Linked DNA regions of Homo sapiens: all the other regions are linked to region 2. The links come from fine-mapping of genetic effects on gene expression. A gene starts in region 2. Each other region holds a variant in brackets. All regions are shown on one strand. Distances are between the middles of the regions. Region 1 holds the start of PRKACG (protein kinase cAMP-activated catalytic subunit gamma). Region 2 holds the start of FXN (frataxin). Region 3 overlaps FXN (frataxin).

What was found. PIP is the estimated chance that this variant, and not a neighbour inherited with it, causes the effect.
Region 1: its variant is fine-mapped to the expression of FXN in nucleus accumbens (GTEx, PIP 0.93).
Region 3: its variant is fine-mapped to the expression of FXN in whole blood (TOPMed, PIP 0.96).

The regions. Positions count from the first base shown.
Region 1 is chr9:69,010,418-69,018,596 of GRCh38, forward strand. It overlaps PRKACG (protein kinase cAMP-activated catalytic subunit gamma), which reads right to left and starts at 3,696. Exons shown (of 1, transcript NM_002732.4): 1 at 2,087-3,696. The coding sequence starts at 3,675. The coding sequence ends at 2,620. The variant C/T (reference allele first, on the strand shown) is at 4,581.
Region 2 is chr9:69,030,771-69,038,949 of GRCh38, forward strand. FXN (frataxin) reads left to right here and starts at 4,982. Exons shown (of 5, transcript NM_000144.5): 1 at 4,982-5,177. The coding sequence starts at 5,013. RefSeq lists silencers at 4,871-5,340, 5,923-6,217 and an enhancer at 5,501-5,550.
Region 3 is chr9:69,063,326-69,071,504 of GRCh38, forward strand. FXN (frataxin) reads left to right here. Exons shown (of 5, transcript NM_000144.5): 4 at 1,613-1,710. Among named protein-coding and RNA genes, the nearest start is that of FXN, 32 kb to the left of the region's middle. RefSeq lists enhancers at 3,280-3,879, 5,130-5,629. The variant A/AAAC (reference allele first, on the strand shown) is at 4,286.

The DNA.
Region 1 (8,179 bases), 20 kb before region 2:
TATCCCCACTTGAATCACCCGTGGCCTGCCTGTGTTGTCTCACCTGTCTCAAAAAACCTCAACATTTTCAACCGTTTTTTAATGACTGAGGTATAACTTACATATGCTAGAGTGCACAGCTATGAATTGTATAGTCCAGTGAATTTTTACATATGTGTAGACCCATGTGCCCAGCACCTAAAGCGCATAGAAAACATTTGCAGCTAACCTACTGGCTTTTTTTTTTTTTTTTTTTTTGAGACAGAGTCTCGCTCTGTCGCCCAGGCTGGAGTGCGGTGGTGCAGTCTCAGCTCACTGCAACCTCTGCATCCCGGGTTTAAGCAATTCCCCTGCCTCAGCCTCCCGAGTAGCTGGGATTACAGGCAGCTGCCACCATGCCTGGCTAATTTTTTGTGTTTTTAATAGAGACAGGGTTTCACCATGTTGGCCAGGCTGGTCTTGAACTCCTGACCTCGTAATCCGCCCGCCTTGGCCTCCCAAAGTGCTGGGATTACAGGCGTGAGCCACCGTGCCTGGCCACCTGCTGGCTCTTTCATGTCCCCTCTCCACCAATGCCATCCTCAAAGGTCACTATTATGACTTCCAGCATCATAGATTAGTTTTGCCAGTTCTTTTTTAACAAAACTTTATTGGTAATAGTTGGTTTTTTGTTTTGTTGTATTGAGACAGAGTCTCACTCTGTCACCCAGGCTGGAGTGCAGTGATGCGATCTCGGCTCACTGCAACCTCTGCCTCCCAGGTTCAAGCGATTCTCCTGCCTCAGTCTCCCAAGTAGCTGGGATTACAGGTGCATGCCACTACGCCCAGCTATTTTTGTATTTTTTAGTAGAGACGAGGTTTTGCAATGTTAGCCAGGCTGTTCTCAAACTCCTGACATCAAGTGATCCACTTGCCTTGGCCTCCCAAAGTGCTGGGATTACAGCACCCGGCCTTATTGGTAATAGTTTTGACATATGTTTACAACAGCACACTGTTCAAGAGGAAATCTCATCTTTTCACAGCAAGCAGGTTGAATCACCCTGAGCCCACCTGGGGACCCACCCCAGGCCTGAGAGCTCCTCCTGGGATGGGGAGAAGTGATGAGAGGGGGAAATATGAAGATGAATGAGGTGGCTTGCCAGCAGCTCCTCACTTTTCTATTAAGAAAGAAAACAGACCAGGGACGGTGGCTCACTCCTATAATCCCAGCACTTTGGGAGGCCAAGGCAGCTGGATCACCTGAGGTCAGGAGTTCAAGGCCAGCCTGGCCAATGTGGCAAAACCTCGTCTCTACTAAAAATACAATAATTAGCCGGGGATGGTAGTGGGCCCCTGTAATCCCAGCTACTCGGGAGGCTGAGGCAGGAGAGTCGCTTGAACCCGGGAGGCGGAGGTTGCAGTGAGCTGAGATTGTACCACTGCACTCCAGCCTGGGTGACAGAGTGAGACTTCATGTCAAAAAAAAAAAAAAATTGAAAACAGCACGGGGTGGCAGGGGAGAAGAGGTGAAGGATGGCTGACAGCTAAGCTGGAGAGGGGCACCCAGGATGGGAGAAGGCAGAAGCTGCTGGGTGAATAAAACAGGCAGCCCCTCCCCAGCAACCCTAGCCTTGAACCCTGGGCGATGAGGTGGGGGTGGAGGGGCTGGGCCTCTTCCATGTCCTTTTGCAGGACTGCCTTCCCATAAGGAGAGGCTGGGCATCACAATCTGGCTGAGAATAAAATTAAGGAGTTTCGGGGAAATGCTGCTGTGAAGAAAGACTTGGGCTTGGAACTCCCACTCTGTCTTTTTGGGGGACAACTCCTCTTTGGCAGGGAGTAGGGCAGCTGCTTTTCTGGCTCCCAAAGCCCAAGGGTGAAGAAAAGTCTGCTGGGGAAGAAGAGAGTGGAGCTTCCTAAAAGAACTGAGACCTTTGCAAGAGTGATAGAGGATGCCCCTGGGGAGGGGGGAGGGGGAAATCAGCAGTTCATGGGGGAAGTTCAAACCCCAGAGCCTCCTTCCAAAGTCAGTCGGCTTCCTGGATTTGTTAAAATGGAATGGGGAGACACGGTAAGGTGGGAAGGGTGGGAGGGGTGGAAGTAGAGGAAGGAGGAAAGGGGACACTGGTGGAACTTAAATAAGATTTTAATTGTTTTTTGTTTTAATTTTTTATTCTAGCAAACAGCCCACTGAACATGGCACTAAACCTCTCTCCTTCCCAGGCAGGATTACGCCAAAGGGTAGGTGTGCTTTTCATTCATCCTCTCTTAGTAAGTGGTGCCTGTTCAGGGCTGGAGTTAAGTTTGAGCCCCTCTTTCCACACCGTGTCCCTTGATACAACAGCAAGACCTGGCCTGAATAGAGCTGAGAAACTCGTTTAAAACAGGCAGAAGGGGGCTGGGGCAAGGGGGACCCTGTGGGAGGAGAAAGAGAGAAGCACAGAGGGACCAGGAAGGCATGGGGGGGGGTGAGGGAGCAGCTGGTGTTTCTGTTCCTCCAAATATCTGGGCTTCCTGCTCCCCCAACCCTGGAGGGTGGGGTGAGGATGAAATTAGATACAAGGAACTCTGGGGCCCTCTGGCTGTTCAATCCAACCCTCCCATCCCCCAAACCACCAAAAACAAAAAGGAAAGAAAACCCACAGGGGCACAAGCACACCCCTAAAACTCAGAAAACTCCTTGGCACACTTCTCATTGATGGAGATCCGGAGCTCTTCCTCCTCGTAGTCGTCAAAGTTACTGGCATCCCCAGGGCCTGTGTACTTCGGGATGAAGGGAGCTTCCACCTTCTTCTCATAGATGGCGATCCAGCTGGTTGTGGCGAACCACTTGTGGTTCTTGATGTCGCCAACCCCGTTCCTGAGGTTTCCGAAGCGCTTGGTGAGGTCCACCTGCAGCAGGCTCCGCAGCAGATGCTTGAGGTCAGAGCTGAGTTTGGAGGGAAACCGCACCCTCCCAGAGACGATCTTCTCGTAGATCTGGATGGGCTGGTCGGCGTAGAAGGGTGGGAAGCCCACGGCCATCTCATAGATGAGCACCCCTAGGGCCCACCAGTCCACGGCCTTGTTGTAGCCTTTGCTCAGGATGATCTCGGGGGCCAGGTACTCTGGGGTCCCGCACAAGGTCCAAGTGCGGCCCTTCACGCGCTTGGCGAAACCGAAGTCCGTCACCTGCAGGTAGCCCTGCTGGTCGATGAGGAGATTCTCGGGCTTCAGGTCGCGGTGGATGAGGTCGAGCGAGTGTAGGTACTGGACGGCCAGGACGACCTGGGCGGCATAGAAACAGGCATGGGGCTCGCTAAACCTTCCGACGCGCTGTAGGCGGGAGAACATCTCCCCACCCGGCACGTACTCCATCACCAGGTACAGGTAGGAGTTGTCCTTAAAGGAGAACTGGAGCTTGACGAGGAACGGAAAGTCGATCGCCTGCAGGATGCGCTTCTCGTTCAGTATGTGCTCGACCTGCTTCATCTTCACCACCTTCTGCTTGTTGAGGATCTTCATGGCGTAGTGGCCGCCGGTCTCCTGGTGCCTCACCAGCATCACCCGCCCGAAGGAGCCCATGCCCAGCGTCCTGAGCCGTTCGAACTGATCCGAGCTGGCGGTGTTTTGAGCGGGGTTTCCCCATCTGTAGAGGAAATCTCCTCTGGCTTTGGCTAGGAACTCGTTCACGCTCTCCTCCTGCTCGGTGTCCTTCTTGGCGGGGGCGTTGCCCATGGCGGTGGCGGCGGCAGGGGCGGGGGTCTCGCGGCGGCGGCGGCGGCGGCGGCAGCGGCGGAGATGGCGCCCCCTGGGGCTGGCTGCGCTGGCTGCGGCGCTGCGACCCCCGCCCGGCCTCCGCTTATATTCCCAGCTACATGGGAGGCTGAGATGGGAGGATTTCTTGAGCCTGGGAGGTCAAGGCTTCAGTGAGCCAAGATCACGCCGCTGCACTCAACAATATGGATAAATCCAAAAGGCATTATGCAAGTGAGAGAAGCCAACTCTAAAGGAGACTTACTGTATGAATCCATTTCTATGACATTCCAGAAAAGGCAAAACTATAGTGTGAGAGAACAGATCAGTGATTGCCAGGGCTTGGGGTTAGGGGACGGTTGGACTATGAAGGGACAGCCTGAGGGAATGTGGGAAGTGGTGGGACATGTTTGTATCCTGATTGTGCTGGTGGTTACAATGTATTGGGTGGTGGTCTACATTTGTTTTAAAACTCATAGAACTGGCCGGGCGCAGTGGCTAAAGCCTGTAATCCCAACACTTTGGGAGGCCGAGGCGGGCGGATCACAAGGTCAGGAGTTCGAAACCAGCCTGACCACCATAGTGAAACCCCGTCTCTACTAAAAATACAAAAAAATTAGCCAGGCGTGGTGGCGCATGCCTGTAATCCCAGCTACTCGGGAGGCTGAGGCAGGAGAATTGCTTGAACCTGGGAGGCAGAGGTTGCAGTGAGCAGAGATCGTGCCACTGCACACCAGCCTGGGCAATAAGAGTGAAACTCCATCTCAAAAACAAACAAACAAACAAACAAACACCTCAAAGAACTGTATACTTCCCCCCAAAATTCAGTTTTACTGCATGTAATGTTTTATTTTAACACATACATATGATTTCCTTTCTTCTGTTTG[C/T]TTTGGGTTTAATTGCTCTTATTTCCTAAGGTGGGAACTAAGGTCACTGATTTGAAATCTTTCTTCTATTACAATCACTTAGTGCTATAAATTTCCTCCTAAGTATTATTTTTTGCAGCATCCCACAAATTTTGGTATGTTGTATTTTCCTTTTCATCCAGCTCAAAATATTTTCTAAGCTCCCTTTTCATCTTCTTTGACAGATAAGCTATTTAAAAGTATATTATTTCGTTTCCAAATACTTGGGGATTTTTCAAGAATTTTCCTATTGATTTCTGATTTAATTCCATTGTTAGAAAACATACTCTGTGTGACCTAAAATGTTTTACACTTCTTGGGGCTCATTTTATGGCCCAGAATATGATCTATCTTGGTAGATGGCCCATATGCACTTGAGAAGAATGTATATTCTGGTGTATTCTGCTGTTTGAGGATACAGTGTTCTACAAATGTCACTTAGGTCAAGTTGGCTAGTAGTAGTGTTCAGGTCTTCTATATTCTTATTGACTTTCTGTTTACTTATTCTATCAATTATTAAAAACATGCCACAGGAGTTTATGAGAAGTCAAAGTACATAGATGATGGGCCTTCCATCACTCCCCCAGGCCACCATGTCAGCCGCCCCACACACCCTCCAGAAGACTGCCAGCACTCAGCCATCACAGGGTGGGTTCTGAGCTGCTCTCCCCAGTCAATTCTGTACAAAGATTCTGTCCTACATCATAAACACTGAGCTACAGGAATACCCATTTATCCTCCTATTTTCTCTCCATCTTGCCCTTTAAGTTTGACAGCTAATTCTGCCTACCCACCCTGGCTACACCGCCTGTAGCTAGTGCAAGTAAACAACACACTTTCACCTAGCCCTGCAGGCTGAAACCAAGCAAATTGGAGAGGAATCCCTGATTACTTGACTCCAAGTAGAAGGTTTCTATTGTGACTGTGAATTCTTGCCGCTCAGTTCAGCAGATGTTGGTCAAGCAGGTGTCTATTGTGTGCAAGGCCTGGTTCCGAGTTTACGGTTTAATCTGGGGCCAGTACTTGGGTACTGACTGTATATTCAGAGACGGTCAGGTTAGAGAGGAAGAAGAGGAAAGGAGAAAAATCTACTGTTGATCATCTGAACTTCCACAAAAGGGAAACCCACATTCCCTCAAGAACATAGCAGGGGGGTCAATTGCCCCTTGTGCTTTGGGTCAAGGCAAATCCCTGGCAGATGGAAATTCCACGTCTCCCCCATAATCTCAGTGATTTCCTCTTCATTTTCATCACAGTAGATCTGCTAAAATTCTGCCCATTTCTGACTTACCTCCAGATTATTCAGTAGAAATTTATACACAAAGAGCAATTAGTGGGAAGCCATTCTCTTGGACCGACGCCTTGGAAGTGGGACAGTTTGTTTAGAAGCAGGCTGTGCCATTCCATGACAAATTCTTGTGGCATTAATCTCTGAAGTTCAATTAGGAAGACACAGGGGTCTAGAGGGAACATATGCTGCACACTAGAAATGTCCCCATGCTTCGTTTACAGGTCAGAACATCAAGTATTTATCCCAGAACAAGCTGCAGAATAATTACATTTGTTATTTCTCTCCACTTTCCGTTCTGCTTTTCTCCATGGCCTTGGGGAGCAAGGGAGTCCTTAGCATGCCAAGGAAACAGGAATCCTTTTGCATTCAGATAAACCCTTTCAGAAGGAAAAGATTTGTGTAGCAAGATACAATACCTCTGCATGATCTGCTTGGAGCTTGCCTAGGGGGCCAAATGAAGAGGTGAAAGCCAACTCTGCTTTCCTGTATGCCCAATGAAAGGCAATCAAGACCATTCTTCTCCCAAAAAACTGCTCACTGGCAGTCATGCCAGCTGATTCTCCTCTTTACTGTTTATATAGCAGTTTCCAAATGGCTAATTGCATAAGGCTTGGATCATTCAATTCTAACTTCCTCTCTATCTCCAAAATATTGATGGGAGCAAAGAAAAGAACAAACTCCACCAGGATTCAAATAAGAAATAAACTACAAATCTCTATCACTCAGGGAATTATTTACATAACACTGCATGTTCTGGTCCAGAAATACTTATCATACCTGGATTTTGACAAGCCAGCTTCTATTAATAGTTTGTTTTCTCCTTATTAGCAGAATATTGTAAAAGAACATTTTTGAACACAAAGTTTCTATGTCAGATTTATGATCTATAAAATGCTGATTTAAAAATTGGCGTGGCCTTTGTTATATGAAAGATGAAAAATTATGGGAGTCAGGAAGTTCAGAAATAACTTAATGACAATAATTTATAAAGTACTACATTTATTTAAAGTTTGGGCAATCATTCATCCCTTGGTACCACTAATTTTGCCACAATTTTTTTTTTCTTTTTTTTTGAGACCGAGTTTTGCTCTTGTTGCCCGGGCTAGAATGCAATGGCACGATCTCGGCTCACCGCAACCTCCACCTCCCGGGTTCAAGCAATTCTCCTGCCTCAGCCTCCCGAGTAGCTGGGATTACAGGCATGTGCCACCATGCCCAGCTAATTTTGTATTTTTAGTAGAGACGGGGTTTCTCCATGTTGGCCAGGCTGGTCTCGAACTCGCGGCCTCAGGTGATCTGCCTGCCTCGGCCTCCCAAAGTGCTAGGATTACAGGCGTGAGCCACCGTGCCCGGCCACCATAATATTTATAGAAGTGGCTTGACACACATGATAATGAGCATTGTAATGTTTTTGGGACCTGAAAAGAAAGTAGTCCTAGAAATAGGCCCAACTTGCTTACCTAAAAATATATCTTCTGACATATAAGAACTGCCAAAAGTGATTACCCCTAGGGAATAGCACTAGGAACTTAGAGAAGCATAAATTAAAGGAAGGAAAATTTTTACTTCTCACTTTATAAGCTTCTGAATTGCTAAAATTAATTTTGAGCATGAATTACTTTACTTATTAAAATAAAAATGAGGTAAAACATTGGTTTCTCACAAATGCATTTACTTATATTTTATATGTCACTTTTATATACTGTTTAAATCCACAAAAGGGAGACAATTTTTATAAAATTATTTTCCCCATATTTTGTAGTTCTCCTTCGTTTCCTGGCAATAGCACTCTGTTTTATCTTTGAGGGATTACTTCTACCTCATTTCATCTGATTCTGTTGGGTTCCCAATCTAACCCACTCACCTGAGTCAAAGTCAGGGATGGCCACAGGACCCAAGATAGATCGATCAGTTTATGTCTCTCAGGAATTGAATCTTGAGCAGAGACACAGGGGGATTTGAGGCATTTGTAAAGGAGCCATCCAAATACAGCATCTTAGAAGGCTGTCCATGTTTCTACAGCTGTTGGCCAATAAGTTCCTTGCCTTCTGTCCTGAGCCCTGGTTTTTCAGTTCTTCCTTTATGTGTCTTTCCACATAAAGGAAGCAAAGCTTTTTTTTTAAGCAAAGCAAATGGGACAAGGCGGGGGTGGGGAAGAGAAAGAAAGAAACAAATTTATTGAAGACAATAATGAATTCAGGATTGAACACATTGAGTTCATAGGTCCTTAAGACATTCAGGTAGAGATGTCTAATTAGCCAATGGAAATCTGGGATTGAACTTAGTAGAC
Region 2 (8,179 bases):
GCTGAGTATCTTATGAATTTAATCTATATTAATATTAAGGTGATGTATCAAATTGCATTCCAGAGTGTGGATTTGACTCTAGTGCCATAATCAGTCTCCTGGGACAAACAGCTGTTTCTCTTCCCTCATTATAGAAAAAAATTGCCCTTGGCAAATGTCAAAGAACATCCTTTTATCAATCTCTCTTACCAATCAATCCAAGCAAATGCAGTGGGATTTCTTTTCCCCAGAGTTGAAGTCACCTCCTGACAGGAAGTTAAGTCTTTAGGCACTGAATCATAGCACTGAGCTGAAGCCCAGGACTAAGCAAGAATGAGTGAGAATTTGGAGACTTAAGGTTTGGTCATCTGTAGAGGATTGGGTTTTGTCTTGTTTTGTTTTTGTTTTGGTGTCCTGCAAGGTTTCTCACTGCCCTTCATCAGGTAATATGCCCTGTCCCTGAACTGGCCAATTGTGTTACCCCATTCCCTTAGCAACAGTGATTGCTACTGAAGAAACAGGAGGCCAACAAAGAATATCACTCATTCACCAGTAGAGTGTCTATGTCAGAGATATTAGATAAACAGGAAAACTAACAATTACATTGCAGGCTGTGGAAACAGAGAGAGGTACCTAAGGCACACCTGTGGGAATATGAAAGTTTGGTTTCATAAAAGGATTCTGGAGGAAGTCACCTCTGACATTTGAGTTGAGTCCTACAGGATATGAAGAAAGTAGCCCCATGTTCCGGTTACTATGGCTGTGTAATAAATTACCTAAAACATACTGGATTAAAGCTATGAAAACATCTTTTCTGCCCAGAGATTCTGTGGGCCTGAAATTCACATGGAACACATAAGGCATACCTTGTTTCTGCTCCATGATGTCTAAGGATTCAGCTGGAAGACTGGGAGGCTGGGGGCTGGAATTTATCTGAAGAATGACTCATTTACATGTCTACTGGTTGACCCTGGCTGTTGGCTGAGGGGGCCTCAGCTCTCTCTACATTGTTTCTCTACTTTGGCTAGTTTGGATTTCCTCAAAACATGATGGCTGGTCCTCAGTGTCAGCATCCCAAAAAGAGAATGCCGGACACAGTGGCTCACACCTGTAACCTCAGCAATTTGGGAGGCTGAGGTGGGAGGTTGCTTGAGTTCAGGAGTTCAAGACCAGCCTGGGCAACATAGTGAGACTCTGTCTCTACCAAAAATTTTTAAAATTTTAAAAATCAGCCAGGTGTGGTTATGCACACCTATAGTCCCAGTTACTTAGGAGGCTGAGGCAGGAGGATCACTTGATTCCAGGAGGTCAAGGCTGCTGTGAGCTATGACCACACCACTGCATTTCAGCCTGGGTAACAGAATGAGACTCTGTTTCAAACAAACAAAAACCCAAAAAAAAAAAAAAGAGAGAGAGAGGGAGTTAGAAGGAAGATGCATCATTTTTATGACCTGGACTTGGAAGTCACCAAGCAGCACTTCTGCAGTACCCTGTTGGTTGGAATAGTTGTAGCCCAAACCCGAATTCGAAGGGAGGAGAATAGATAACATCCCTGGGTGACAGGAATGTCAAAGTCCCAAACAGCATATGACATGTGACAAATATTGGTGTGGCCTTCTTTGGAAGATCCAATCTTCCATACCAGGCAAAGGGATGGAAGACTAAGGAACAACATGAGGGATAGCCAGAGAGGGAAAAAGCATCACTTGTTCTAGGAACTACAAATAGCTTGAAGAAGCAAAGATGTCTAGATGCCTCCCAATATGCAGAGTGGGGTGTACAGAAGAGAGTGGTAAGGGCGCTGGGAGAGCTAAGGTGGGCAAGAGAGCTTCCTCTGTCATGCTAAGAAAGTTGGAATTTATCTTGATGGTGGTGAAAGCAGAGGGCTATGGTTAGATTCACATTTGAGATTTAGATTTTTAGATTTAAAATGATCACCCTGGTGACACTGGCTTAACTCACAATTTTGCCCAAGGCCTATGCTACCACAGTGCTTCTGAAACTTTAAAGCACATTAGAATCACCTGGAGGTCTTGTTAAACCATGGATTGCTGGGCCTTGAAACCCCAGAGATTCTGATTCAGTAGATCGAGAATAGGGCCTGAGAATTTGTATTTCTAACAAGTTTCCAGGTGATGCTGAGGCTGCTGGCCCAGCGACCACATTTGATAATCATAGCCCTCTGATAAATCCTATCAAAATATCCTAATGGCAGAGCAAGGGAATTCTGGTGATATCCTCCCCTACCCATAACCTGACAGCTATTAGGATCTGCCTACTTGAGGCTAAAAGCAACCAAGAGAGGAACAGCTACAGTGTACCACAGAGTCCCTCAACATCTTTGCCCACGCCACGGTGCCCCAGCTTCTTACCAAGTGTGCCTGATTCCTCTTGACTACCTCCAAGGAAGTGGAGAAAGACAAGTTCTTGCGAAGCCTTCGTCTTCTCTGATATGCTATTCTATGTCTATTTCTTTGGCCAAAAAGATGGGGCAATGATATCAACTTTGCAGGGAGCTGGAGCATTTGCTAGTGACCTTTCTATGCCAGAACTTGCTAAGCATGCTAGCTAATAATGATGTAGCACAGGGTGCGGTGGCTCACGCCTGTAATCTCAGCACTTTGGGCGGCCGAGGCGGGCGGATCACCTGAGGTCAGGAGTTCGAGACCAGCCTGGCCAACATGATGAAACCCCATCTCTACTAAAAATACAAAAATTAGCCAGGCGTGGTGGTGGGCACCTGCAATCCCAGCTACTCTGGAGGCTGAGACAGAATCTCTTGAACCCAGGAGGTGGAGATTGCAGTGAGCAGAGATGGCACCACTGCATTCCAGCCTGGGCAACAAAGCAAGACTCTGTCTCAAATAATAATAATAATAATAACTAATGATGCAGCTTTCTCTCTCTGAGTATATAATGCAGTTCTGATGATGTGAGGAAGGGCCTCACTGTTGGTGTGGCAGAGTCTGAGACCATGGCTGGCAATGAAAACACTACCCTTTGATGCCTATGGGCTCTCCCTTTATGGTTTCAAGGAGGGCTTCTCAATCTTGGCAGAATTTTGGACTGGATAGTTCTTTGTTGCACAGGTGGGGGGCTGTCCTGCACATCACAGGATGTTTCATCCCTGGCCTCTACCTACTAGATGCCAGTAGAACATACCCACCCCACAGCTGCCTGTTGTGACAATCAAAAGCATCTCCAGATACTTTGCAGGGGGAAAATGATTTCTCCAGGCCTGGCATATACATAACAGTATTTAAGCAGCTGCCTAGAATTAATTAAACACAGAAGGATGTCTCTCATCCAGAATGCCCTGGACCACCTCTTTGATAGGCAATCAGATCCCACCTCCTCCACCCTATTTTTGAAGGCCCTGTGCCAACACCACTTCTTCCATGAATACTTCCTTGATTCCCCCATCCCTAGCTCTATATAAATCTCCCACTCAACACTCACACCTGTTAGTTTACATTCCTCTTGACACTTGTCATTTAGCATCCTAAGTATGTAAACATGTCTCTCTTCACGATTCACAAAGTGGCTTTGGAAGAACTTTAGTACCTTCCCATCTTCTCTGCCATGGAAAGTGTACACAACTGACATTTTCTTTTTTTTTAAGACAGTATCTTGCTATGATGGCCGGGCTGGAATGCTGTGGCTATTCACAGGCACAATCATAGCTCACTGCAGCCTTGAGCTCCCAGGCTCAAGTGATCCTCCCGCCTCAGCCTCCTGAGTAGCTGAGATCACAGGCATGCACTACCACACTCGGCTCACATTTGACATCCTCTAAAGCATATATAAAATGTGAAGAAAACTTTCACAATTTGCATCCCTTTGTAATATGTAACAGAAATAAAATTCTCTTTTAAAATCTATCAACAATAGGCAAGGCACGGTGGCTCACGCCTGTCGTCTCAGCACTTTGTGAGGCCCAGGCGGGCAGATCGTTTGAGCCTAGAAGTTCAAGACCACCCTGGGCAACATAGCGAAACCCCCTTTCTACAAAAAATACAAAAACTAGCTGGGTGTGGTGGTGCACACCTGTAGTCCCAGCTACTTGGAAGGCTGAAATGGGAAGACTGCTTGAGCCCGGGAGGGAGAAGTTGCAGTAAGCCAGGACCACACCACTGCACTCCAGCCTGGGCAACAGAGTGAGACTCTGTCTCAAACAAACAAATAAATGAGGCGGGTGGATCACGAGGTCAGTAGATCGAGACCATCCTGGCTAACACGGTGAAACCCGTCTCTACTAAAAAAAAAAAAAAATACAAAAAATTAGCCAGGCATGGTGGCGGGCGCCTGTAGTCCCAGTTACTCGGGAGGCTGAGGCAGGAGAATGGCGTGAAACCGGGAGGCAGAGCTTGCAGTGAGCCGAGATCGCACCACTGCCCTCCAGCCTGGGCGACAGAGCGAGACTCCGTCTCAATCAATCAATCAATCAATAAAATCTATTAACAATATTTATTGTGCACTTAACAGGAACATGCCCTGTCCAAAAAAAACTTTACAGGGCTTAACTCATTTTATCCTTACCACAATCCTATGAAGTAGGAACTTTTATAAAACGCATTTTATAAACAAGGCACAGAGAGGTTAATTAACTTGCCCTCTGGTCACACAGCTAGGAAGTGGGCAGAGTACAGATTTACACAAGGCATCCGTCTCCTGGCCCCACATACCCAACTGCTGTAAACCCATACCGGCGGCCAAGCAGCCTCAATTTGTGCATGCACCCACTTCCCAGCAAGACAGCAGCTCCCAAGTTCCTCCTGTTTAGAATTTTAGAAGCGGCGGGCCACCAGGCTGCAGTCTCCCTTGGGTCAGGGGTCCTGGTTGCACTCCGTGCTTTGCACAAAGCAGGCTCTCCATTTTTGTTAAATGCACGAATAGTGCTAAGCTGGGAAGTTCTTCCTGAGGTCTAACCTCTAGCTGCTCCCCCACAGAAGAGTGCCTGCGGCCAGTGGCCACCAGGGGTCGCCGCAGCACCCAGCGCTGGAGGGCGGAGCGGGCGGCAGACCCGGAGCAGCATGTGGACTCTCGGGCGCCGCGCAGTAGCCGGCCTCCTGGCGTCACCCAGCCCAGCCCAGGCCCAGACCCTCACCCGGGTCCCGCGGCCGGCAGAGTTGGCCCCACTCTGCGGCCGCCGTGGCCTGCGCACCGACATCGATGCGACCTGCACGCCCCGCCGCGCAGTAAGTATCCGCGCCGGGAACAGCCGCGGGCCGCACGCCGCGGGCCGCACGCCGCACGCCTGCGCAGGGAGGCGCCGCGCACGCCGGGGTCGCTCCGGGTACGCGCGCTGGACTAGCTCACCCCGCTCCTTCTCAGGGCGGCCCGGCGGAAGCGGCCTTGCAACTCCCTTCTCTGGTTCTCCCGGTTGCATTTACACTGGCTTCTGCTTTCCGAAGGAAAAGGGGACATTTTGTCCTGCGGTGCGACTGCGGGTCAAGGCACGGGCGAAGGCAGGGCAGGCTGGTGGAGGGGACCGGTTCCGAGGGGTGTGCGGCTGTCTCCATGCTTGTCACTTCTCTGCGATAACTTGTTTCAGTAATATTAATAGATGGTATCTGCTAGTATATACATACACATAATGTGTGTGTCTGTGTGTATCTGTATATAGCGTGTGTGTTGTGTGTGTGTGTTTGCGCGCACGGGCGCGCGCACACCTAATATTTTCAAGGCTGGATTTTTTTGAACGAAATGCTTTCCTGGAACGAGGTGAAACTTTCAGAGCTGCAGAATAGCTAGAGCAGCAGGGGCCCTGGCTTTTGGAAACTGACCCGACCTTTATTCCAGATTCTGCCCCACTCCGCAGAGCTGTGTGACCTTGGGGGATTCCCCTAACCTCTCTGAGACGTGGCTTTGTTTTCTGTAGGGAGAAGATAAAGGTGACGCCCATTTTGCGGACCTGGTGTGAGGATTAAATGGGAATAACATAGATAAAGTCTTCAGAACTTCAAATTAGTTCCCCTTTCTTCCTTTGGGGGGTACAAAGAAATATCTGACCCAGTTACGCCACGGCTTGAAAGGAGGAAACCCAAAGAATGGCTGTGGGGATGAGGAAGATTCCTCAAGGGGAGGACATGGTATTTAATGAGGGTCTTGAAGATGCCAAGGAAGTGGTAGAGGGTGTTTCACGAGGAGGGAACCGTCTGGGCAAAGGCCAGGAAGGCGGAAGGGGATCCCTTCAGAGTGGCTGGTACGCCGCATGTATTAGGGGAGATGAAAGAGGCAGGCCACGTCCAAGCCATATTTGTGTTGCTCTCCGGAGTTTGTACTTTAGGCTTGAACTTCCCACACGTGTTATTTGGCCCACATTGTGTTTGAAGAAACTTTGGGATTGGTTGCCAGTGCTTAAAAGTTAGGACTTAGAAAATGGATTTCCTGGCAGGACGCGGTGGCTCATGCCCATAATCTCAGCACTTTGGGAGGCCTAGGAAGGTGGATCACCTGAGGTCCGGAGTTCAAGACTAACCTGGCCAACATGGTGAAACCCAGTATCTACTAAAAAATACAAAAAAAAAAAAAAAAGAAGAAGAAGAAGAAGAAAATAAAGAAAAGTTAGCCGGGCGTGGTGTCGCGCGCCTGTAATCCCAGCTACTCCAGAGGCTGCGGCAGGAGAATCGCTTGAGCCCGGGAGGCAGAGGTTGCATTAAGCCAAGATCGCCCAATGCACTCCGGCCTGGGCGACAGAGCAAGACTCCGTCTCAAAAAATAATAATAATAAATAAAAATAAAAAATAAAATGGATTTCCCAGCATCTCTGGAAAAATAGGCAAGTGTGGCCATGATGGTCCTTAGATCTCCTCTAGGAAAGCAGACATTTATTACTTGGCTTCTGTGCACTATCTGAGCTGCCACGTATTGGGCTTCCACCCCTGCCTGTGTGGACAGCATGGGTTGTCAGCAGAGTTGTGTTTTGTTTTGTTTTTTTGAGACAGAGTTTCCCTCTTGTTGCCCAGGCTGGAGTGCAGTGGCTCAGTCTCAGCTCACTGCAACCTCTGCCTCCTGGGTTCAAGTGATTCTCCTGCCTCAGCCTCCCGAGTAGCTGGGATTATCGGCTAATTTTGTATTTTTAGTAGAGACAGATTTCTCCATGTTGGTCAGGCTGGTCTCGAACTCCCAACCTCAGGTGATCCGCCCACCTCGCCCTCCCAAAGTGCTGGAATTACAGGCGTGAGCCACCGCGTCTGGCCATCAGCAGAGTTTTTAATTTAGGAGAATGACAAGAGGTGGTACAGTTTTTTAGATGGTACCTGGTGGCTGTTAAGGGCTATTGACTGACAAACACACCCAACTTGGCGCTGCCGCCCAGGAGGTGGACACTGGGTTTCTGGATAGATGGTTAGCAACCTCTGTCACCAGCTGGGCCTCTTTTTTTCTATACTGAATTAATCACATTTGTTTAACCTGTCTGTTCCATAGTTCCCTTGCACATCTTGGGTATTTGAGGAGTTGGGTGGGTGGCAGTGGCAACTGGGGCCACCATCCTGTTTAATTATTTTAAAGCCCTGACTGTCCTGGATTGACCCTAAGCTCCCCCTGGTCTCCAAAATTCATCAGAAACTGAGTTCACTTGAAGGCCTCTTCCCCACCCTTTTCTCCACCCCTTGCATCTACTTCTAAAGCAGCTGTTCAACAGAAACAGAATGGGAGCCACACACATAATTCTACATTTTCTAGTTAAAAAGAAAAAAAAATCATTTTCAACAATATATTTATTCAACCTAGTACATACAAAATATTATCATTCCAACATGTAATCAGTATTTTAAAAATCAGTAATGAGACCAGGCACGGTGGCTCACGACTGTAATCCCAGGACTTTGGGAGGCCGAGGCGAGTGGATCATCTGAGATCAGGAGTTCAAGACCAGCCTGGCCAACATGGTGAAACCCCATCTCTACTAAAAACTAGCTCAGCATGGTGGTGGGTGCCTGTAGTCCCAGCTACTCGGGAGGCTGAGGCATGAGAATCACTTGAGCCCAGGAGGCAGAGGTTGCAGTGAGCCAAGATTTTGGGGGATTCTGTGACATACAAAAAAAATCAGTAATAAGATATCTTGCATACTCTTTTCGTACTCATATACTTCCAGCATATCTCAATTCACAATTTCTAAGTAAATGCTCTATCTGTATTTACTTTTATAAAATTCACAATTAAAAATGAAGGTTCACATAGTCAAGTTGTTCCA
Region 3 (8,179 bases), 33 kb after region 2:
TTAAGATTAGCTCTGCCAATTACTGAGTACTCTTTACTATGAACCTCTGTTTTCCTCATCTGTGAAACTGGAATAATGAATCCTACCGCCAACAATTGTAGTCAAGTTGGAAACAATTTACACAAAGTGCCAAACACCAAGCCTGGCACAGTAGGAACCGAGTAAATAGTGGTTAATATTTTTATCAGTGTCTGCATTGCTGACGTCTCCATCATTTCTATACATTTGTTTTTGAATCAGAAAAAGATGTTATTTTAAAAAAATAACCCAGTAGTGCCCCTTGTCCCATTCCTATCAGTTATATTATTATTGTTACTACCCTCTGGAATTTCAATAACTCTTTGTTTTTTGGGTTTTTTGTTTTGTTTTGCTTTGCTTTTGAGACAGGATCTCTGTCGCCCAGTCTGGTGTGTAGTGGTGTGATCTCAGCTCACTGCAGCCTCAACCTCCTGGGCTCAGGTGATCCTCCCACTTCAGCCTCCCAAGTAGCTGGGACCACAGGCGCATGCCACCACACTTGGCTAATTTTTGCATTTTTAGTAGAGACAGGGTTTTGCCATATTGCCTAGGCCGGTCTGGAACTTCTGGGCTCAAGCCATCTGCCTGCCTCGGCCTCCCAAAGTGCTGGAATTTCAGGCATGAGCCATGCCTGGCCTAAATAGCTCTCTGTGTTTGCAAAAGTGTGTTATAAGAATCATTCAGAGCCTCTCGATTGGATGGAGGCTCTAGAATGCACAGAAAAAGGCTGCCACCGTGTATCTCTGCAAGTCATGCACAAGATGGGGAACAGCAGGCTTCCCCCTGCTTACCAGTTCAAATACAGAGAACTAGCCCTGTAGCTGTTTCTTTCATATCTCACCCATTCTAAAGAGACCACAGGCCTTAGAAGTAAAGGACTCTTTTGTTGAAAGAGTGTTTTCAAATTTAAATGAGCATTTATTGGTCAAAGATGCACCAACTAGTCTTTTGAAGAATTCAAGGCTCTTTAGAGAAAAATAAAGCCTTGGAGGAGTATCTGAGAAGCTTGTTAGATGCGTGGGAAGAGTCTGGAAATAAAAAACTTCATCTGGAGTTTCTGCCTTCTACCAACAGAGCTGAAGCTAATGCTCTCCTAAGACAAGCAAAGCAGATGGTTTGCATACTTCCTTACCTTCCTTTTACTTCCTCTGTAATAGACTTGTCATGTCTGATGTTTGAGTTGACGTGGTACTCTAATAGAGTTAGAGTCTGCATTTTTTTTATGTCCTCTAGTATGTTCTGGTTGATGGTTGAGGGCAACAAACCAGCAGTCCCAGATGCCAGCACCAAGACCTGAGACAGGTCACTTAACTCTCCGAGCTTCACCACCATTCTCACCTTGCAGACCTCACAGGGAACAGGGAAAGCTCTATGAGATACAACATCATTATGATTAATCCTATTCTGATTCTGAAAGCAAAGCTCTTCCTACACAAACTCCTATTTCTAAATACTAAAAGACATTTCTTTATGGTGTATTTTGTGTACTTGTAGAAATGGAAAGTGTTGAGATAAAACATGAAGCAATGATGACAAAGTGCTAACTTTTTCTTGTTTTAATTTCTTTATGCTTTTTTTCCACCTAATCCCCTAGAGTGGTGTCTTAACTGTCAAACTGGGTGGAGATCTAGGAACCTATGTGATCAACAAGCAGACGCCAAACAAGCAAATCTGGCTATCTTCTCCATCCAGGTATGTAGGTATGTTCAGAAGTCAACATATGTAATTCTTAAAGACTTCCGAAATGTGACATTGTGGACCATTTAAGAAATGTCGGCTGAGCACAGTGGCTGACACCTGTAATCCCAACACTTTGAGAGGCTGAGGTAGGAGGATCACTTGAGGACAGGAGTTCAGAACCATCCTGGGCAACATAGTGAGTCCCTGTCTCTGTAAAGAAAATAAAAATAAAGTCACAGCTGGGTGCAGGCTTACACCTGTAATCCCAGCACTTTGGGAGGCCAAGGCCTGTGGATCACTTGAGCTCAGGAGTTTGAGACCAGCCTGGGCAATGTCACAAAGCCCCACCTCTACTAAAAATATAAAAATTAGCCAGGTGTGGTGGCACACGCCTATAGTCCCAACTACTTGGAAGGCTGAGGTTGAGCCTCAGCCTGAGCCCAGGAGGTGGAGGTTGCAGTGAGCCAAGATCGCGCCACTGCACTCCAGCCTGGGCAACAGGGCCAGACCCTGTCCCAAAAAAAAAAAAAAAGTCATCGTCTTATGTTAGCATCCTTGTAAGTGAGCCTTTCCTGATATTTTGCAGCCTGTCTCATTCTCAGTAGAAAAGTTTACTCTAGTTACATAACTTCTCCCTGCTGACAATTTGGATACTGTAAGCAGGCATCAGGATATTAAGATCTGAAGTGAGTAGCTTATAACTTTTCCAAATCCAGCCTAGACAGTTTTCCTCTATTAAATTATTGCCCTGACTTTAAAAGAAGCTACTTTTGACCTTGTAGCGTTTGAACAAGTTGCACTTTGTCTTCAAAGCAAGTTAAAGTTTGACCTCTACTTGTTTTGAGCCTCTCAGGTAAAGGGTTATTTGAATTCCCTTTGCAGGTTGGGGTTGTGTACCCTGTGGAGGTGGTAGAGTGTTATATATTGCTGCTCCAGGGCATTTAATCCCTCCTGCCTTTTCCATTGATGTGCTTTCAATCTAGAGGAATAAAAGATTGTGTTGGAGACACAATGTGGCCTGCATAGCATCTGAAAGCCTGAGAACATGCAGGGAGAGACATCCCTCATCCCTCAGCAGCCTGGCTGCTGTTGAAGTGGTTGTAAGAAAGTAAAAGAGAAATGCCCACAAAACGTTCTCAGATCCAGTCATTCATTAGCACTTCCAAAGAGAGCATGTTGACTGTGAATTGGGAAAGGGCCAGATAAAACTAGCATAGAATTCTTTGAAAGACTAACGGTATTTGCATTTTTTAAAAATTATAACCTTACTCTACCCCCTAACATTGACATCATTTTTAGGTAATTAATATTTTCCCATTTATTATTCTGTGATCTCTAATGCTTTGTTCAGAATAAATAGTGTGTTTCCTTTCCCCACACTTTCATCCAAGAAGTGTGCTAGAGTTCAACAAAAACAGCACTAGAAATCACTGTCATTCTAGGAAGGCCCTAATTCACAGATTGTATTGGTTTTTAGACCCAGTTAGTGTGCTGGAGGTTGGAGGATTTTAACCTCTGTGGGCCAACTAGCCTCTGTGGCCTCAGTCATTCTTCCTGACCCTGGCTGTGCTTGAGCCTGTGTGTTCTTATCCTTCATCTCCGGGGGAACGAAGTGGATCAGCTCGGTCCAGCGATCACTTTTGGGGATCAGTGGCTTTGTAGATATCGGGCAGGCACTTACCCCAAAAGAACTTTCCCCATATCTGAAGACTGAAAACGTCCATATCGTATTTGGACACACTGCCCAGCAATACGCTCTAGCTGTGTTCAGAAGCATGGGAATTTGGAAAGATCTGCTGAGCATGCCGTTTACTGTCACAGATACTATCTTCCTCAAAAAAAAAAAATATATATATATATATGGGGGACGGGGCAGGTTGAGACTGGGTGAGACTGAAGAGGTGCCTTGGCCAGAGCAGGCCACACCCAGAGACCACAGGCTCCCCGGTCCACCTCAGGCCCCTCCCCTTCCTGCGCCGTTTCCGGCAGATCCAGAGTGGCCACCGCCGGATGGGAGTCGGGGGAAGGGAGGCAGAGAAGCGGGCCCTGAGGACAAGCTCTCAGTGCTTCTGTGGGAAGTGGCGGCAAGACGGCAGCTCCCAGCGGGGGATGGAGGCCGAGTCAGTCTGCTGGTCACTGGAGGCCAGGATGCTGCCTAACACAGCCGTCCCGCTCCGGGCCTCACCACCAGGGCGGCTCTCCCCACTCCCGGCCTGCTGCCCACACAGACTGCGGGGTTCCGGGGGAGCAGGACCCAGGCCGTTCTGCGCCTGTCTTCTTGGAAGGAGCAGGCCGGAGCGCGGGAGCGCCGTGTAGCTGTACCTGCGAAGGCACAGGATTCCGCGGGAAGATCCCGCAGTTTCGGGCCGTCGTCATTGTTTTTATACCTGTGGCAAATGGCATGACCAGACACACGGTTATGTCTGGAGAAACCCCTGTAGAGGAGCAGGAGGTTGTGGACATGCTGTGGCCCGGACAGTGGCTGCCGAGCAGTTGGAGCCTGCACCCGCCCAACTTGGCTAAAGAAGTCCCCATACTCTCTGTGGAAAAGATTTCCAGAAGCTGTTGTGTCAATATCAAAGCCTCA[A/AAAC]AACAACAACAACAACAACAAAAACATGAAATTATCAACAATAAAGATCATCCTTGAGTCTGCTTTGAAAAGTAGGGTGAAATTCTGCAGAGGCATTCAACTGGCAAGATACCACCCTCATAGCCAGATCTGCAGGTCTCAGCCATCATGCCAGGGAAAATGCTCCATTCACCACTCCTCAGCTTCTGCTTCTGGTTTCAGAGGTCTCTGTATTGGAGGGGCTTTAAAGCAAGAAGGGTCTTTACCCACTTACTCTTATTCACAGATGTGAATATGCAGGTCCAGTGGGGAAAGTGACATGTCCTAAGTCAGAATAGAGTCAACAAGAAAACAGGGCCCAAAATGACTTAGCCTCTAGTGTATAATGGGCATTGATGAGCTACTGGAAATACAGAGATGAAGAAAACACAGTCCCATCTTCAAGGAGCTCAATCTAGCAAGGGAGACAGACTCTTTGTAGGTGGGACCGGGCTTCCCTGCAGCAGAAGGAAGCTTGAAATTGGTAACGAGCCTCAGAAGGGACAGAGGCAGGCCACCATGCTACCCTGAGAGGATCGCATGTGGACACGGGGCTATGACCTGGCCCTGCTTTGACCCACTAGCTGTGCTGTAGGGCCAGGTGGAGCCTGGAGTGGCCTGTGCTAAGGGGCTACTATGAGCTCTTTCCACTCCCCCAAGGCATTGCATAAATAATGTCACTTTCTGTTTGCACAGCAAAATCAGGGACACAATTTTCTAGAACATGGGGTGCCTCCCCTCCCCCCAGCCCAACAGAAGTTCTACAATGACTGATGGGCCCTTGTTTTTGTTTGAGACGGAACACCCCACAGGGTTCCGAGTGGTGATTTGTGGCCCACAGGCCACTGGCAAGTGGAGGCAGAGCTGCAGAGCCCTCGGGAGCCACAGAGGGCCTGCTGGCCGCCACGACATGCCAACTCAGCTGCTGCTGGCCCTCCTGTGGGCGGCAGTGCTAGTGATGTGCAGAATCTTAGGACTAGTGCCAAGGAACCTATAAATACCCTGGGTGACCCAGGCGTGCACTGCTGTGGTGGCCTTCACAGTCAGAAGATGACAAGCTGAGAAGGGGAGAATCGGCCCAAGGTGAGATCCACAGAAAGGCCAGGGCCAAGATGCGGCCAGCACCTCAGGCTGGTGGTGGTCTTACGTTGACCATGCCAGAGGCCAGTCCTTGATTGCTCCAAACCCTCTGTTCGAGGGTTCCAAATGAAATGAGCAGGTCCTCGTGTCAGGACCTAGGTTAGTTTCTGAAAAAGCATGAAAAGCAGGCCTCCTGAACTTCCCCGAGTGACTGATGCAAAGTGCGTCCTGCATGCTTCACAGCACCATGGAGAGGATCTTCAGGGGCAAACTGCAGACTATCTGAATGACGGCACTGACCATCAGCAAACCGCAGAGCTGCCTGACCAAGAAATTGCGAGACAGAAGCAATGCTTGCAGGCGAAGAAGAAGGGGCCAGACACAGTGGCTCACGCCTGTAATCCCAGCACTTTGGGAGGCCAAGGCAGGCGGATCACTTGAGGTCAGGAGTTTGAGACCAGCCTGGGCAACATAGTGAAACCCTGTCTCTACTAAAAATACAAAAAATTCGCCAGGCATGGTGGCAGGCACCTGTAATCCCAGCTGCTTGGGAGACTGAGACAGGAGAATTGCTTGAACCCAGGAGGCGAAGGTTGTAACGAACTGAAATCGTGCCACAGCACTCCATCCTGGGCGACAGAGTGAGACTGTCTCAAAAAAAGGAGGAGAAGAAGGAAAGGCCAAGGCAGGAATGAAACAGGCCATGAATGTTGGAGTGAAGCAACTGGCCTCCTCGTGCTAAGCGGCTACTGTGAGTTCTTTCCACTCCCCCAAGACATTGCATAAATAATGTCACTTTCTGACACTCACCCCGCTGAATGTCCTGCCTCTGCTCAAGGGTGGTATGATGGGGACTTGGCAGTGGAGGGGAACAGGGAAACCAGACATGGTGGTCTCCCCGCTTCCTGGCTACAAGTCCCTCTGAAGAAATCCAAAGGAGTAAAGAGCTTGGAGAGTAGGCCTCTGTAGGGTGCAAGGGCACAGCTGGAGACGGAGCTCCTGAGGCTGCAGCTGATGCTGCCCGCTCTGCCTGAACTGCACCAAAAACGTGATGAGGCCATAGCGGGAGTCCACGGAGGAGGATGCCTACTGCCCGACCTCTAGCAGAGACTAAGCAAGGTGCATGAAAACTTGAACCACATGTGTCACACCCATGACCACTACATGAAGATGGCCCAAAACCTGGCCCAGGAATTGAAGAAAGACTCTTCCAATTTGCTGTAAGAAAATGGCCCAGGGGGCAAGCACGGTAGCTCACACCTGTAATCCTAGCACTTTGGGAAGCTGACGCAGGCAGATGGCTTGAGCTCAGGAGTTCCAGACCAGCCTGGGCAACATGGTGAAACCCCGTCTCTACCAAAAATACAAAAATTAGCCGGGTGTGGTGATGCATGCCTGTGGTCCCAGCTACTCAGGAGGCTGAGGTGGAAGGATTGCCTGAGTCTGTGGGGCAGAGGTTGCAGTGAGCTGAGATCACACCACTGCACTCCAGCCTGGGTGACACAGTGAGACCCCATCTCAAAAAAAAAAAAAAGAAAGAAAACGGCCCAGGAAGGCTGGAGGGCCGCCGTGTCCATTGAGAGAGTGCTCCAGGCACTCCAAAAAGAAAATGACCACAATGGGAAGAAACCAGCTGACCATGAGACCAAGTTCCAACCTTTTACAAGTGGCCTGTGGCTCCTGGCGCCCCGCCCACAGCTGACAGGGGCTCAGAAGTGCTAGGGGGACCATGGGCCACCAGGGCCACCAGGAGGGAGGCAGGTAACGATGCGAGGGCTTGGATGCAGAACACCAGCTGGTTTGATTCTGTTTTCCCTGTACCTGGGTCCTGAATGCCCAGAGGCTCAGGGAAACACCAGCCAGTGCTGCTGCCTTTAAAGCACTTTTGACTGATCTCTTGTTAATTTAGCAACTGTTATTGGTTGATGCTGCAGTTGCTCTTATTGAAGTTTGATTGATAGCATTAGGATGGTAAGGCACTATTTTTCAAATAAAGGTTGTTTAATATAAAAAAAATTTTGTTTTTTTTTCTCTCAGCCTTTCACATTGGTTCAAAATATCTTTCATCTGGCTGCATTTCTGATTTTTGTTTTGTTTTTTTTTTCTTAATTTTATTTATTTTTAATTAAAAATAATTTTTTTTGTCAACATGGGGTCTCACTTTGTTGCCTAGGTTGGTCTGAAACTCGTGGCTTCAAGCAATCCTCCCACATCAGCCTCCCAAAGTGCTGGGGTTATGGGTGTGAGCCACTGCAGCAGCCTGTTTTTTTTGTTTGTTTGTTTTTTTTAATTTGACAAGTTTTCAGGTCCTGTGAAATCAGCAGTCTTACCTCCCACCTTGCGCACCCTGAGGAGGTTGCAGAATAAAGGAGAATTCTAGGGACACGTGGGCATCAGTGCCTGTGCTCAGAGCACCTCAGGCAGTGTGGAGGGGTCTAGAGGTTACTCAGGCTCTGCCTGGCAACCCGATAGCAGTATCAGAGTATAGGGCCAAGGGGACGGTCCTTGGGCTTGGTGTGGTTTATTAGTCCTTTTCCTGTGACCCTGATGGTTTGGTTCACTCATTTTTATCTCCATACTGGGAACAGGTTCAAGCCCCAGCATTTGGTTGATAATGCAGGAATCCTTGATACTTTTATTGCCCAAGCTTCCCTTCCTGGTGACCTCATCCTAGCCTCAGTCTTTGGAAAAGCCCTCCTTGAGTGCTCAGGCAGACTCAGGTGCCCTTTCTTCTGGGCTCCCATGCACTCTGTTCTTACCTCCATCAGGGTGCCACATGCACTAGTGTTATCTGCT